Regions from separate parts of the Homo sapiens genome. Here region 2 is linked to region 1. Evidence: fine-mapped expression QTL. Tissue or cell type: putamen. Region 1 holds a variant in brackets; the other region holds the start of a gene. All regions are shown on one strand. Distances are from middle to middle.

What was found. PIP is the estimated chance that this variant, and not a neighbour inherited with it, causes the effect.
Region 2: LINC02795 starts here. The variant in region 1 is fine-mapped to the expression of LINC02795 in putamen (GTEx, PIP 0.95).

What each region holds. Positions count from the first base shown.
Region 1 is chr1:86,368,231-86,376,342 of GRCh38, reverse strand. It overlaps ODF2L (outer dense fiber of sperm tails 2 like), which reads left to right. Exons shown (of 17, transcript NM_001366781.1): 8 at 1-110; 9 at 3,803-3,912; 10 at 5,190-5,325. Among named protein-coding and RNA genes, the nearest start is that of MIR7856, 15 kb to the right of the region's middle. The variant T/C (reference allele first, on the strand shown) is at 4,244.
Region 2 is chr1:86,314,756-86,322,867 of GRCh38, reverse strand. LINC02795 (long intergenic non-protein coding RNA 2795) reads left to right here and starts at 3,267. Exons shown (of 4, transcript NR_187380.1): 1 at 3,267-4,212; 2 at 4,473-4,536. LOC105378825 (a long non-coding RNA gene) reads left to right here. Exons shown (of 3, transcript XR_007066205.1): 3 at 1,837-2,564.

The sequences.
Region 1 (8,112 bases):
CAAGTAGGCAAAAAACTGTAGCTTTAAAAAAGGCATCTAAAGTTTACAAACAAAGGCTTGACCATTTTACAGGAGCTATTGAAAAGCTTACTTCCCAAATTAGAGATCAGGTATGTAAATGCATTCTTTTTAAAATTAAAAGATCTATTATGTACGTAGTTTATATAATTAATATCATGATGCTTAATATAGTAATTTTATTCTTTTCTTAATGCTGTTAATACCAGAAAAAACTTACACTTTTTGCTTTAATCTTTTACTTTGAAATATTACATAAAATGTCAAATTTTCATATTGAAATATATCAGCATTTCCTTGGGAACTTTACTTAAAGGAAATATTAAGTGTGTCCCCCCCGCCTCCACACACAAAAAAAGGTTCTATTGGCCAACTAACTAAGGGTAATACTTCATACATATTTCCCCTTGGGACATTGTGGTCTATGTTAGCAAATTAAAGGTTCTGAGAAGGCTTTCAGAAACAGTGGAATGAAGGGTATTGAACTAAGAGTTTCCCACACTTTTTTAACCACAGAGCTAGTCTTTTATGCACAAAGCAACTCTTGGAACTGGTTCTGAGGAACACTAGTTTGAGAAATGCTGATTTATGTTATTAGACCCTATGACTTTATTCAGTAATTAACCTAATTTAATCTCTGTAATACATTTAAAACCATGTGCTGACATAAACACACCAAGTAAAATATATCTTTGGTATAGTACAAATTTGAAAATGGCCTTAGTGCTTTGTTGTTTTTGATAAATTATTATATTTATTCAATTACTAATTAATAATTTTTTTAAAAAAGTCTCACTGATATCCTGCCTCTTAAGAACTTATGTTAAGGCTTATAGAATTATTAGAGGCTTTTAGAAATGAAAACAGACTTGTATAAAAAGTTTATGGCAAACAAAGTAGTATTTTGTTAACCTTGTGACTTGGGATAAGGAACTTAACCTCTTCAATTTCCTCATGTATAAAATAGGGCATCATAATACTCCCTATCTCATGTGTTTGTAGGGAGAGATAAATGAGAAAATATATTTTTGCATTGTCCTCCTTTCTGTTGCTGTAATGCATGAAGTTTTTTTCTTTGTTTTGTTGTTTTTCTTGTTTGTTGTTGCATCTGGCTTTAATATTCTTCCCTGGCTCACAATAGCTCTTTCTTTTTTTAATCATTCAGGTATCTTTTCAATTGACATCTCTTCAGAGAGGCCTTTCTTGACCATTTCTTTTGAAGTAGTTCTAAAACAATCATATCAATGTCTTAATTTTTTTCATAGCATTCACTATAATCTGAAACTATATCATTTATTTTTTCATTTATCACTGCTGTTGTGTTTTGTTTTATTTTTAACTGTTTCCTTCTACTTGAGTATAAGTCTCAGAAGGCAGGAGCTTGCTATCCTATTCACCTAAGGTAAGGGTACCATTATTTAAAACAGTACCTTAAGTCTAAAATATGAACAGTTCAGCAATAAGAGCTAAATAATAGTTTAACAAAATGTTATCACATATCTACACAATGCGTAAATTTTGCCAAGGACTACAGAGACAGATCAAGGACAAGGAGGATTTGTAAACGTCTGTGGTCTTTGGTAATTAGAAGGTCACTAGTTACTAATTCACATGCAGTTTCAATGCAGTGGAAGGAAAGGTGAAAAGGGGTATTTTGCTTTATCTGCATGTTATAAGGAGAGATGAAAGGAGAAATGGGGATTTGGAAAGTACGAGAGACCACTGATTCTGACTTTTAGTACCTAGGGGCCAGGATGTTAAATGCTCTATAATTCTGCACACTGAAGAATTAACCCATTTCCTTCTTTGAAAATTAGATCCTAATTTTGCTTCTCGTGGCTTAGATGTGCCATTTCTCTAAAGCAAAGAGAAAAGGTAGGCCAACTCAAAAAATCTCTAGGAAGGTGATTCCATCACTGACTAGTTTCAACATCTAGGAATGCCATACTGATGAAGTAGGTAATAATTATATTGCTAACATATAAATTCTTTTCTTACTGATAAAACTTCTAAATATCTTAATTTATATTATAAACTTATACTTCATAATTTATATTAAAGCTTATTTTATACAAAATATGAAAACAATACTAGTCTTCAATATATCAAAATATTCCTGTGAAAAAATTTAAACAAAAAAGTCTTGCACGTAATACATGCTCAGTAAATACTTGCTCAGTAAATGGATGAATGATGAAAGAAAGAAGTACCCAATAAATGTTAATTGTTGTCATTACTGTTTCTAAGCTTTTTGATTTGTAATTACTGGCATTGTGGCCTTCCAGTGTGTTTTTATGTAGAATGTAGAGCGGAGGCACAGTGGCTACAGCTCTTTAGGTGGATCTGCAGAGAATTATTTGAGCTATTTATTGAGTGTTTGCTGTGCTCCAGGCACTATCAAGGCCCTAGAAATATAGCCATGAACAAAAGCAGATAAAAATCCCTACCTCATGGGAGTTCACATTCAAAATGAATAAGCCACTACTACCACTTGTATCTCTGTGTGGACGGTAGCAGTGTTTGAAGGCTGATGGGGTGACCTCTACAAAATAGATCTTGGCGTCATTATAGCAAAGACAAGTAAGGTACATCACCAAATGTTATGGAGCTGTGGAATTGGGGATAGTTTCTGTGTATATCACAGGGGCTTTCTCCTCTGATGCTTATGTGTTTGTTACCATCTTCTCTCTATAGAGCATGAAATTAATTCAAGACCAGCCTGGGCAACATAACAAGATGCTGTCTCTACTATATATATACAGTATATAGTATATACACCATATATATAGAGTAGTTATATATATCAATATATATGTATAACATATATATATAGTATATACATATGTATCTAGATATATTTTATATATGCATGTGTATATATGTGGTGGCTGTGGTTGGCAGACATTTGTAGCCCTAGCTACTAGGGAGGCTGAGGCAGGAGGATCCCTTGCACTCAGGAGTTGGAGGCTGCAGTGAACCATCATGACCGTGCCACTGCACTTCAGCCAGGGCAAAAAAAAAAAAAAGTAAAATGGAAAGTTCAGTAAAAAGAAAAGAAATTATCTTAATTATGAAATATTGTTTAAAAATAGTTGCAACATCTTTTAAAATTTAAGTTGAAACTTCCACTATGTGTATATGAAATAATAGCAATATAGATATTTACTTTACAATTTTTCTATTCAAAGTTGTACAGTGACTTTATTTATTTCAATAGTTTTTAGGGGACAGGTCGTTTCTGGTTACCTGGACAACTTCTTTAGTGGTTATTTCTGACATTTTGGTGCACCTGTCACCCGAGCACTGTACACTGTAGCCAATGTGTAGTCTTTTACCCCTCACCTCCCTCCCTCCCTTCTCCCTAGTTCCTAAAGTCCTTTATATCAATCTTATGCTTTTGCATTTTCATAGCTTAGCTCCCACTTATGAGTGAGAACATACGATATTTGGTTTTCCATTCCTGAGTTACTTCACTTATAATAGCTGTCTCCAACTTCATCCAGGTTGCTGCAGATGTTCCTTTTAATGGCTGAGTAGTATTCCATGATGGATATATACCATATTTTCTTTATCCACTCATTGGTTGGTGGGCATTTAGGCTGGTTCCATATTTTTGCAATTATGAATTGCACTGCTATAAACATGCATGTATAGTTTTCTATATTTGAAGTTCCATACTTTTTGGAAGATTGCTTCCCTGTTTATAATGTATTTGTGTTTAGAGATCTGAACAAAACAAAAATGTTTTAAAATTATAGTATGAATACTTTTATGTATTTTTTAGGAAGCCAAGTTGTCTGAAACAATTTCAGCTTCCAATGCCTGGAAAAGTCATTATGAGAAAATTGTGATAGAAAAAACCGAATTGGAAGTACAGATTGAAACAATGAAAAAGTAAGAAAAAATTTAGAATATTTTATTATTTAGTAAGAGTTTTCACTTTTTAAAAAATTCTTTGAGTTGTTTGTATTTTGATTTTTTTTAGATTACATATGGTAAAGGTGCTACCTATATGATTTGATATTTTTGCTATTTATAATTCAATAAAGTTTTCTTACTCTATTATTAAAAATAATTAAAATGATTGCTCATTAAAAGTGAATTGGTGTTCACATTTTTAATTTTTTTTTTTTTTTTGAGATGGAGTCTCACTTTGTTGCCAGGCTGGAGTGCAGTGGTGCAATCTCAGCTCACTGCAACCTCCGCCTCCTGGGTTCAAGTGATT[T/C]TCCTGTTTCAGCCTCCCTAGTAGCTGGGACTACAGGCATGCACCACCAAGCCCAGCTGTTTTTTTTTGTATTTTTAGTAGAGACAGGGTTTCACCATGTTGGTCAGGATGGTCTCGATCTCCTGACCTTGTGATCCGCCTGCCTCGGCCTCCCAAAGTGCTGGGATTACAGGCGTGAGCCACCACGCCTGGCCCACATTTTGAAATTTTAAACTTGTAGATTATCATTCAATATTTCAGTATGCCATCTATTATTTGTAGTAAATGTTAATATTTACTTTTTCTTAAATGGAGGTGATGTTTCTCTTTTAAACAAGAATGTGTGAAAATATATCTAAAAGTTTATAATAACTGCTTTGAAAATCGTAAAAATGATTGTTCCTTAAAGTGACTTAAATGCATAACAAAGAAAATGAAAAATAAAAATACATATATTTTATTATTTGAAATGTATTACTGATAACACTATAATGAACCCTGAATATTTGATTTTAAGTGTTTTCTGTGTCTTCAGTTTTGTCATTGAAAACTACCATATATAATTCATTTCTAAAGTTTAGTTTTATTGCCTCACTTAATTCTTTTCTTTAACCTTGTCCCTAAAATTGTGTATATATGTGTGCATGTGTATGAATGACAGGAAGAGAGAGATGTGCATACTTGTGGATAATAGTTTAGAAGTTTTATTGAATAGCAAAGAGCATGTTGTATAATTTTTTGTTGGTATCATCAGTGGGCAATTGTTTCTAATCAGAGTTACTTTGGTTGTACCCTTTTAGATTACTTCTTCTTATTTTTCTTGTTCTATGAGTTCTATTTATTTTTTGTATATTCCCTATTTGAAACGATGCACCCGGCCAAAGTGATTTCAGAAACACACTTAAAATGTGTTATTTGAATAAAAATTTTTATGACTTTTATAAAATGTGTCATTGATTTTATAAAGGCAAATCATTAATCTTTTGGAAGATCTGAAGAAAATGGAAGACCATGGAAAAAATTCATGTGAAGAAATTCTTAGAAAAGTTCACTCAATTGAATATGAAAATGAAACTCTGAATCTTGAGAATACAAAATTAAAGGTACTATGTATGAGTGTTTGAGCAGGCATGTATTGTGTAATGACCATAGTCTACTTAGTAGAAATAGCTTGAAGAAAGAGTATGTTTAGAGCAGTGCTCTTGTATAATTCTGTCTTCTATGCTTGTCAGGATATTATGTTTTCAGCAGTACTAAATAATATTTATGAAGTTGACTGTCTCTTTGCCTCAACTTTTAAAATAAACTACTATGCATTTTTGCAGTTAAATGAATCATCCAAATTACATTAACTTTAGTACATAAGATTATTTCTAGATGTCATGGTTACAATAGGATATAACCTCAGGCCTGGTCTGTTTGAAACCAGAAAGTATGTTCTTGGCTGCTTCATAACCAGAAAGAATTTTCCAACTTACTCATATCCAAGGGGTAATTGCTTTCCATAGGTACCAGAGGAGAGACAGGGGAGAAGCTTTTGAATTTTCTGAGAAAAAAAGATATTTGAGTTCTCAGTCAACCAGAGATACATACAACCAGATGGAACTTGAAAGATGATGGCATCATTTTCACTTCCATAATAATACTTTTAGAGGACAGAAAATAGAAGACAGAAAAGAACCTTTTAAAACCATGAAATAAAGTTTATGTGCACAGGATAAATAATATATTAGTAGCATAGAGTACATTTTAGAGAAACTTGTAATATAAGCATCTAACATTGTTTTGTTGTATTTATAACAGTTTAATTCTATTTAGAATTAACTAAATGATATTTAGAATTAACTAAATGATAATACATTTATTCTATGTATTAAGATGTCCTTAAGACATGTTAAATTCCTAAGAGATATTGCAGATATATTCTGTGGTCCTTGAGAGAAAAGATCTTTAATATTAAAAGAGAAGTGAAGGTCTAAGGCTTTTTTTTTTCTTGATTTAAGGTTTGTTTTTCTTTGTTTGTTTTGCATTAGAAATGCACTTGTTTCTTGGAAACATAATTACTGGCTGTTTAGAATTATGCATTATATAAAGCTTGCAGTGGGTTTTTAAAAATGAGTATGTTTATGAGAAAAAATATACACAATTTAAAAATCATCACCAAAGGAAATTATTTTAATAAAATGATAGCATTCCAGGCTTTAAGGTTCTGAATTGTTATTTTAAAAGATTATTTTTCTGATGGAAACTTGAGATACATCCAAATCTCTTTTACCCTTTCTAAACCCTTCTTTCTATGTAGGTCTAAAATGTTGTGGCCTGAAAAGAGAATTTTATCCATTGTAGGTCTTAGCATATTTTCTCAGGAGCCAATCTGTTTGCTACGTACTGATCTGTCTTTGTGGGAGATACATAGTGTTATGCAGTACAGTGTATAGTAATTAAAGCTTGTGTATTATATATTACAGAAGGCAACAGATTGCCTAAGCCAAAAAGATTCTTTCCCTTTGTAGGTTTACAAAGTTGTAACTTTTCTCATCTTGATGTTGAGTTTCAGTCTCCTTTAGACCAATGGGACAAAGCTAGGCTCACAAATCTCAAGTCTGTTTTGTTCCAGGTGGAAAGACTCGATTGGTTTCAAATGCAGGACTTGAAATTGCCAGTCCTGTTGGCTGTGGTCATTCAGAGTGAGTGGAGGAAATAGGAATCTAAGTGATATACGTTATAGGAAGTAGCAAGGTCTTCTTTTCTCACCTTTAATGTATTTAGTAATGCACTTATTTCGGCTACTTTTTGTTAAGAAAGATTTTAAAAAATCAAAATTGCAGTGTACCTTAATACCATTTTTTTTTAGCAGTGACATTGTGATATTCTGAATTAGAATTTTTTCCTTCAAGAAATTTTGTAAGTCCTTTATGGTTCTTCAAGCAATATGAACTACTCATGTTTTCTTAATAAAAGAAGTTCAGTTATTCAGTGAACATAGTTCTTCCAACTTCTGACAATTTATTCAGTATTATCTTTTGAGTGAAGAATATATACTCATTACAGTAAAACTGGAAACTATAGAAATATAAAAAGAAAAGAACTGAGTGATCATTGACCTCACATTCCTTGGAGATAACTATATTTTGTAATATTTCTGTTTTTTCGTAGTTGTTATTAAAATAATATCTTGCTTTGTTCACTTTAAAATGGAAACAGATTTATGTATATAACATATAAATTCTTTATAAGCATCCTTTTAAATTACTTTGTAATATATAGTCAACGTAGAAGTGTTAGGTGATTCCCTATTTGTTGGACATTCAGGTTATTCCCAATGTTTTTAACATTTAATAATAATAATGCTCTGATGAACATTTTCATACATAAACTTTTTGTTGTATTGTCTTTAGCTTAGATTCCCATGTAGAATTACTGAGTCAAAGAATATGAACATTTTGATTGTTCTTGATATGCTTTGCTACATTTCTTCTGAAAAGGTATTTTATTACTCATACTGCCATTAGTTCTCTATACCTCATCAGCACAGGAAATAAAATGTGTTTTTGATTTGTAGTGTTTGCTAATTTGGCAGGTAAAAATGTTATCTATGGTTTTAATTTGTAACTCTTTGAGGAGCTAGTTTTAAATTTCTAAACAATTTCTATTTTTATTCTTCTGATAGTTATCTGCATATCTGTAAATTATATATTATACTCCTTGGTTTATCAAATTTAGTCAATTATATTAACCTTCTAATTAGTCGAGCACTAACATAATTGATAATATAAATACTAATACAACTAAAAGACATGTTAAATTCCTAGTAAATAATACAACAAACATATAACTTTATACTTTCAAAAAAATAAGTGAAGGTAGTTTGATAGAGGAAGCTAAAAGAG
Region 2 (8,112 bases), 53 kb after region 1:
GGGTAGATGAACATGCATTTATAAGTTGAGCAAGGACTGCGTGGGAGTATATTTGGGAGACAAAAGCTTTTGTTGGTTTTGAAATATCTGATATTTTCATGTGAAGATTGTAATCAGAGAACTCAACTGGGTATTTGACTACGTTGCTTATAAGAGGGGTCAGGGCTAGAGAAATACATTGAGGAGCTGTCATCAATTTCTCAGAGATTCATAGTGCAGGCTAATTTATACAGGCTTTCAAAATCAAGCTTCATTGGCTGTGAAATCTCGTCATGCTAAAGGGAGCCAACAGACTGAGATAAAAATATATAGATGCTATTTAGATCATGCCACTGGATGAGGTATAGCTCTAGAAGAAGACAGAGCTAGTGGAGCTTAAGGGCGCTACAGCATCACAACAATGCTTTAACTTTGATACCATCAAAATTGACGTCACTTTAGAAAATGTTCTGAATAGTTTCCAGGTCTTTGTAGAGCTCTCTTTTTTTCAAGGAAATTGACAGAATTTTGTATCTTGGCTTAGCACTCTCTCCAGCATTAGTCATGTGGCTTTCTGTGTCTTCTTAGAAATAATAGTTCTCATTTCTGGGATTGTAGATGGTTTTCTTGAATTTATTTTTAAAATGTGTGGTATTTTCATAGAAAAGTAATGCAGTAATGTACCACTGGTACGGCACATTGATTAGACATGCTTTTACTTCTTAATACACCCAGTGTACAAAAAGGGATCACAAGAGAAAAACAAAAGAATTCTGCTACTCAAGATCTTACAACACTGTGTGATACGTATCTGTTAGCAATAATAGGAAGCTACTTCACACTTCTGCAGTGATCTGAAAACTGTCAGATGCCTTTGAACTTGCCATGTCTGCATGCAGCTCCTGCACTTATTTGAGTTACATGAGGTTGCATGTTCTTATTGAGAGTTAAGAGTTCTCATTTGAAAGTGGTCCAGTCTTGCAAAACTCTAACGATGAAAGTATCTCACTTACTGGAAGGCAATGTAGATGTCTGGGTCACCAATTGAGAATAAGTGACTTCGTGGATGTTAAGCACCAATAAGAGGCAGTTTCAGATGGCTGGCCAGCTACCTCACACAGGAATCTAAGACAGGAAGGCTGCAGTCATGTGCAATTTAATGGCAAGTCTAGTAAGGATGATAATTTCAAAGTAGTGATGAAAGTAAATGATATTTGGAGATATCTCCAATAACAGTAATAAGAGATTAAAATATCCGTGGTTACTATTGGTGACAAGGTGACTTGTTCTGCTCCTACAATGGTGATTTGCTGTCTACATTCACAATGAAAGGAAAGGCTAAATGTCAGTTAGAAGTTTAATGAAAATAGGCTGGGCGTGGTGGCTCATGCCTGTAATCTCAGCACTTTGGGAGGCTGAGGCAGGCCGATCACTTGAGGTCAGGAGTTTGAGACCAGCCTTGTCAACATGGTGAAACCCCGTCTCTACTGAAAATACAAAAATTAGCCAGGCGTGGTGCCGGGTGCCTGTAATCCCACCTACTTGGCAGGCTGAGGCAGGAGAATCGCTTGAACCCGGGAGGCAGAGGTTGCAGTGAGCCAAGATTGAACCACTGCACTCCAGCCTTGGGAACAGAGTGAGACTCCGTCTCAAAAAAAAAAAAAAAAGAAATTTAGAAAAAATAAAGATGTGATTTACTTTTCCCATCCATGTTTATGCATGCATTTGCGGACCCCAGGTAAGAGCCCCTGGTTTAAGTGGAAATTAAAGTAATATGCCTGAGTTAACATGCTGTAGTTTGAGGGGATCACTATTCATCTTTTCACTATTTATCTTTTCTTCCCCACCTGATTTTAGGACAAACTGAGAGTAAAAGATGCAGGAATAAAACACAGAAATCAAAATAAAGGGTTTACTGCTGAAAAATCCGCTTGAACAAGCCTGTTAATGTGATCTTCCTGAATGAAGCCAGCTTACCCCTAGGCCTCCACTGTCCCTCAGGAAAGAGAACACGAAAACTGGAACTCTCTGCAGAAAGGAGGATCCCAAAGAAGGGGCCAAGCTGTACATTTATCAATCAGGAAAGCCACTCCACCCTCCATGGCAGCCCCTACAATTTGAAACAAGTATTCTTCCTAACATAACACATTAATTCATGAGTTTATCAGTTCATTTCATTTTTACTTTGAGATTTTTGTGAATAACCATAGAAAAATCTATTTCACCTGGCAATAAATAGGAAAAGGCACAGCATAATGTTTAAATACAGAGAATATTGTTACATGTAAGATGTTGATTGAATGTTCTAAATACAATTTGAAAACTGCGTGAGAGGAGGAAAACGTATATTCAGAAGGACTTAGGTGAATCCAGATGAATATTTTCATGACAGGATGTTGGCTATTGATATGAAGAAAGTAGAGGAATAGACTTGCTAAAAGTTAGAGGAGTCTAGTTTATCTTCCAAGAAGCTTTGCAACCCTGTAATACTGTAGAAATCACAAATTTGGCAATAATTTTAAGATAATTTATGTTCATTTTTTATGGAATGCCATGTTTATCTTTTTATATATGACATTTTCTGGTCAGTAGTAATATATATATCCTTTATTAAAATTGGAAAATAAATACAAACATTTTATTTATTTATTGGTTAAAAAATTATTATGCTCATTCTTTTTTTTTTTAACCAGTAAGGATCTGGATAAAGAAAAACATTTTAGAAAACCACTTGTAGAGTACCATGAACCAGTCTCTCTTCTCCATTTTAAAAAATTTATTGACTCACTTTTTTTCCATAACTTTTTGAGATATTATTTCAACCACTTTGCATTTAGAGAAAAAGAGTCAGAGAGTGATTAAGAAATCTGCCCAATGCTATACTGATAGAAGCTGGGAGAACTGGGATTTGAGCTTACATAGGCTAGTTCTAGCATTTGTGAAGTTCTCGCCTAATAAAAATTATCTGTAATCATAACCAGAGCAAGTCATTTCTAACCTCCTGTCTATAGACACGCGGATACATTTGTAATGTTTTTGTTTGTTTGTTTTTAGCACGACAGATCAATTCCTGCTGGCATTATAGTTCTTTAACTATCATAGCTTCTCTGATTTTTCAACACATCTGTCATCCGTATTCTGCAGGCATAGCCAACTCTGTCAGTGTCTCCTCAGGCAATCAGAATCAACAGACAGAATGTAGGACAGAAAACTGGCTGCAAACATGTTGGAAGGGCTGGAGGAGCGAAAGAGGGAAGATCTGTTACCTAGAGATAGTAACTTCCAGAAGTTACCACTATACTAGTGCAGGAGAAGCAGAAAGGAAGATGCTGCTACCCAGAGCCCACAGTCATTGTGCCCCTGATGCCGCTGGAACCCCACTGCAGCTGCTTTACAGGAAGCAGGGAATTAGCGCTCTTGCTGATGCTACAGGTATCCAGGATCCAAAAGTCATCAGCCGCTGTCCCTGTTGCAGCCTAGGGAAACTGTCCCACTGAGGTTGTTGGGGTACCTGCTACTGCATCTACTGTCTGAACCATGTTGCCTGAGCAGATGTCCAGGGCTCAGGCTTGCCTGCTGCTGTTACTGCTGCCACCATGTTTATCAGAGCTACTTCAAGAAGAGAAGAAATCCTCCTCATTTCCAGTTTTTTCCAGTGCCTCCCATTGCTTCCCAGAATGCCAAATTCTCTTTGAGAGACAGCTGAAAGGAAGGTTTGGAAAAGACTCTGGTGTAAGCAGATTCTGCTTCCCTGCAATAGGGGGAAAGCATAGGGTGGAACTGGAGCTGAGAGCTAATCACGAATGAGCAAATCAGTCTTCAAGACATTTACCTTTCCTTGAAACGTTTCCCTTCTTTTACCGTGTTTTCCATGTCATTATTTTTCCACAATTCTGCATCATATTCTGTTAACTATTAATGCCCTGGATAAGTTTATTTGCTCTTTCTTAGGGTTAATTTTTCTCCTTTTCTTCGAAGCTTTAGTTTGCAGGTTCAGCTTGTGTGGGAATTTTCATCTCCCTCCTCTTCAAGACTCCTTGGATATCAGTTTTTTGGTTGCCTTCACCAACTCTCCCCCCACCATCTCTAGACCAGGGCATGGTCTTAGTTGGTGGCTTGGACTCCTGTGGCTTGGAGTCTTTGGGGATATTAGAGATCCAGTCACTGAGCTGGCAAAGGGAACACTGTCCTTGCTTCCAGCTTTATGAAGAACGCTTTGCTCTGTCACCCCACGTGAGTCCAACTCTTGGCTGCCTACACTGCCTGAGGCTTCAGTTCTGGCATCGTGCTGCATGTGATCTATTATCCTGCTTTTGAATATGCCTATGACTTTTCTTTATATATTTTTAAAAATGTTATTATTGGTATGTTTACAGTGAAGGGAAGAATGTGAAGCATGAACTCAAGAGTCACAGTAATGATAAATTTTAATGATTGTAATTGTCCTATCTGTCATAATACATTTATTTTGTTGATTTGTTTGGATTTTCTAGGTAAATAATCATGTTATTCAAGGATAATGAATGCAGCCACCATGTAATCATCACTGACTCCATGGCAAGTACACTCTGCCTTGTGCTTTATATACTTGTCAGGACTCAGAAATGGGCAAAGAGGATCACTGGTGTCTTTCAGTGGAGTGCTGGGCATTATAGTGGAGTCCTGGATTATCTGATTCCAAGAATTCACACCTTGACTTTCTATTGACTAGGTTATTTTGCAGCTCTGCAGAGGTAGCTGTTAAATTGTTGAAAACTGCTGACAATGCAGCAAATTCTTATTCATACCAAAGCAAACAAATTTTGACTGGTTGATTATAAAGCTCTATAAGTCAAATTCTCATTTGAACAGATCTTACTATATTAGTGGTTCCCTCAGTAATTAAAGAGTTGAAATAAAATCTTTGACATATGTTTCTTTTATAACTGTAGAAGGGTCATAATTTTACTTTTTTGAAAATTATCCTTTAGCATACATAGTATCTTTTAGTCTTCACAACCTGAGAGGTAAGTATCACTCCCATTTAATAGATGAGAAAACCGAGACTCAGATCAAATGCTTGCCTGCTCAATGTCAGATTAACTACTAAGTGGTCAAGCTGGGATTTGAATGCCAAATTTTGCTCTCTTCAAGCTCTGCTTTCAAGATCTGTGGTCTTACATATTTTTGCTTCCTGGAGAAACCCCATTTACTCACAAATAAAATGATGAAAAAATATGAACTTTGATAAAACAATATTAATAATGACTAATATTTATTAAGTGTTTACTGTAAGCCAAACACCAAACTAAACTTATTTGGATTAATTCATGTAAGTAACAATGAGAGAAGTGAGTTTAAAGAGGTTCAATAACATGCTCAAGGCTTTACATGCTATTTCTAACTTTTTCTCTTCTTTCTCCAAATGCCTAGTTTTCCACATTAGCTGCACGCTAGAATCATCTAGAGAGAGCTCCTTAAAAATATTAGGGTATCAGCATATCTTAAAAGATTCCTAGGTGATTCTAATATGGAGAATCACCACATAATAGAGAGGACTTTTCCTGCTTCCCTAGCTGATACTTAAGAGAACTGGACAAATCTGCAATATTTGTTTTGGTTTTTCTGCTGTAGCTTGGAAAAGGAGTAATGGGGCTGAAATCTGTACTATCCTGAAGCTTGAGTGTCTAGATGTATGCAGGGCTTAGCTAAAAGCATTTGAAAAAGCATCTCAGCCAAAGGTCAAATCATAGCAGGAGCACAGCAATTTAGAGAAACCATCTGAGTGGTAAGAAAATGACTTTTACATGGACTCACTAAAAGATTTAGATATGCCTTAATAAGGCCAGACAATAACACATATTGTCAGTATTTGCTAAACAAATTCTCTTCTTGTAATTTGGAAATGATTTCAATCACATATTAATATTTTATATAAACATCCTTATCCCCTTGCCCACAGAAGCAGACACAGTAGCCTAGCTACTCAAAAGCCATTCACAATCTTTCATTCTTGTCTTTTCCTTCATCATAACTTGAAAACTAAAACATTTAGGTTTCCAACCATCTTTCCATTAGAAGTAACCTTGTGACCCAATTCTCGACCAGTAAGATGAAAACAGTTGTTATGAAACTTTGAAACGTCATTTTTAAAGAGATAAACTAAGAAGCCCCAGCCTTATATATAGATGAGCCTTGAGGTGGTAGAGCAGCTATTTTGTGACCGTGTAGAAAAAGCCACAAGCCAAGAATGGTGGAACAGAAAACTGAAAGGACGCTGGGTTCTTGATGATATCGTGGAGTCATGTACCAGTCCTCAACAACCTCATATCAGAAATTTTTTAACATAAAAAAGTTAGTCCCTTAATCATACAGTCTACTCTTGGTTGGTTTTTCTGTTGCTTGCAGCTGAAGGAAACCCTAACTGATACATTTGTCAAAACATGGAAATAAGAATGTATTTTTTGTTGTTATTTTATTTGAAAAACCACTGTTAAACAAAAGCTTTGAAAGCCAACTTCAGTCAATTTAATTAAGCCCAATAAGAAATCTACACAAGTCATGTCTTTTTTAAGTCAGTCATGTGTTGTCTTCTACCTTAGTTAGTTTCCATTCTGATTTCAAATTGAGTGACAAACTCTGGTAATATATACCCAGAATTTTTCTAAATTAACTCCTATTTTTTCCCCTTTTACAACAATACATTACAAAACCTAACACTTAATAGAAACCAACTTTCTTCTCTTAGATTTAATTGTAATGCAGAAATCTAGCAACAGGATCAATTGTGATATTTTGTAATGCAAAACTCCCAAGTAACTTTTAGGCCTTTAAGCATCTCATCATGAGAAACATGGATTAAATATATAATAACATTGTAAGAAAAATGTGTCCTGTTTTATTGGACCTTCTTGCTGCTTTCTTTTTTCACCTTTTCATATGGTTTCTTCATAATTGTTCTACCCAATTCTCAGCCAGTCTTGTTTGTTCATATTTCAGATTGGCAATGTGGTAAAAACATAGTGATTTGTGATCATTCAAGAGTAGTTTGATCAGTAAAATAGATTAAATCTAAAACATCTAGATTAAAATAGCAAGTTCTTAGATAATCAGAAGAATACTGTAATTGTTCTCTTATATAATTTTTATTTTAATTTTTTAGAGACAGCGTCTCTCACTGTCACCTAGGCTGGAGTGCAGTAGCATGATCATAGCTCACTGCAGCCTTGGACTTCTGGGCTCAAGCTGTTCTCCCCTCTCAGCCTCTCAAGTAGCTAGGTCTGTGAGCAAATGCTACCACGCCCAGGTAATTTTTTTTTTTAATTTTTGTAGAGACGTCTCTCTGTGTTTTCCAGGCTGGTCTTGAACTCCTGGCCTCAACCAGTCCTCCTACCTTAGCTTCCCGAAGTTCTGGGATTTACAGGCATGAGCCGCCATGCCTGGCCTGCCATATATAAACTTTAGGTATTTTAGTATAACGTACTTTGTTCTAAATTTTTTCTAACCATAATACAGTCTTTCTTTAATTCAGAGTACATGGTCTTTTCTGCCCAGTAGAGCTTACGTTTGTGTTAAGAAAATTTTCTTTTATGATTACCCATAGGTCAACAAATTTTAGCCTTTTATAGGAAGACTGAATTTACTTTTCAAAACTGAGTAAATTGTTAAGCTCATTTTGAGTGATGCAAGTAACCCATCCAATGCAATGTAGATTGTCCTTCTTATCTTTATTATTAATGAAGAGAAACACAACCATTTAGAGTTTCTCAAAGGAGATCGAATTTTCAATATTTAGGGTGTGGGCCAGTGTTTTGGAATGAACATGTTTTTTCTTCATGAGTTTCATTAAACATGTTTACTAATGTTTTACACCAGTGGAATTTCATATCTGTCAGAATTCATGATCTCATTCAGTTGTTATTAGAAAAACTTTAGACAAATTAAATTTAATGGAGTTTAACTGAGCAAAGAATGATTTGCACATCAGACAGCCCTCAGAACCAAAATAGGTTTGGAGCAATTCTGGTGCTGCAGCGTGGTCAGATCATTTTATGGACAGAAAAAGGAATGTGACATTCAAAAAATGGAAGCGAGGTACTGAAACAGTTGGATTGGTTACAGCTGGGTGTTTGCCTTATTTGAACCTGGTTCGAA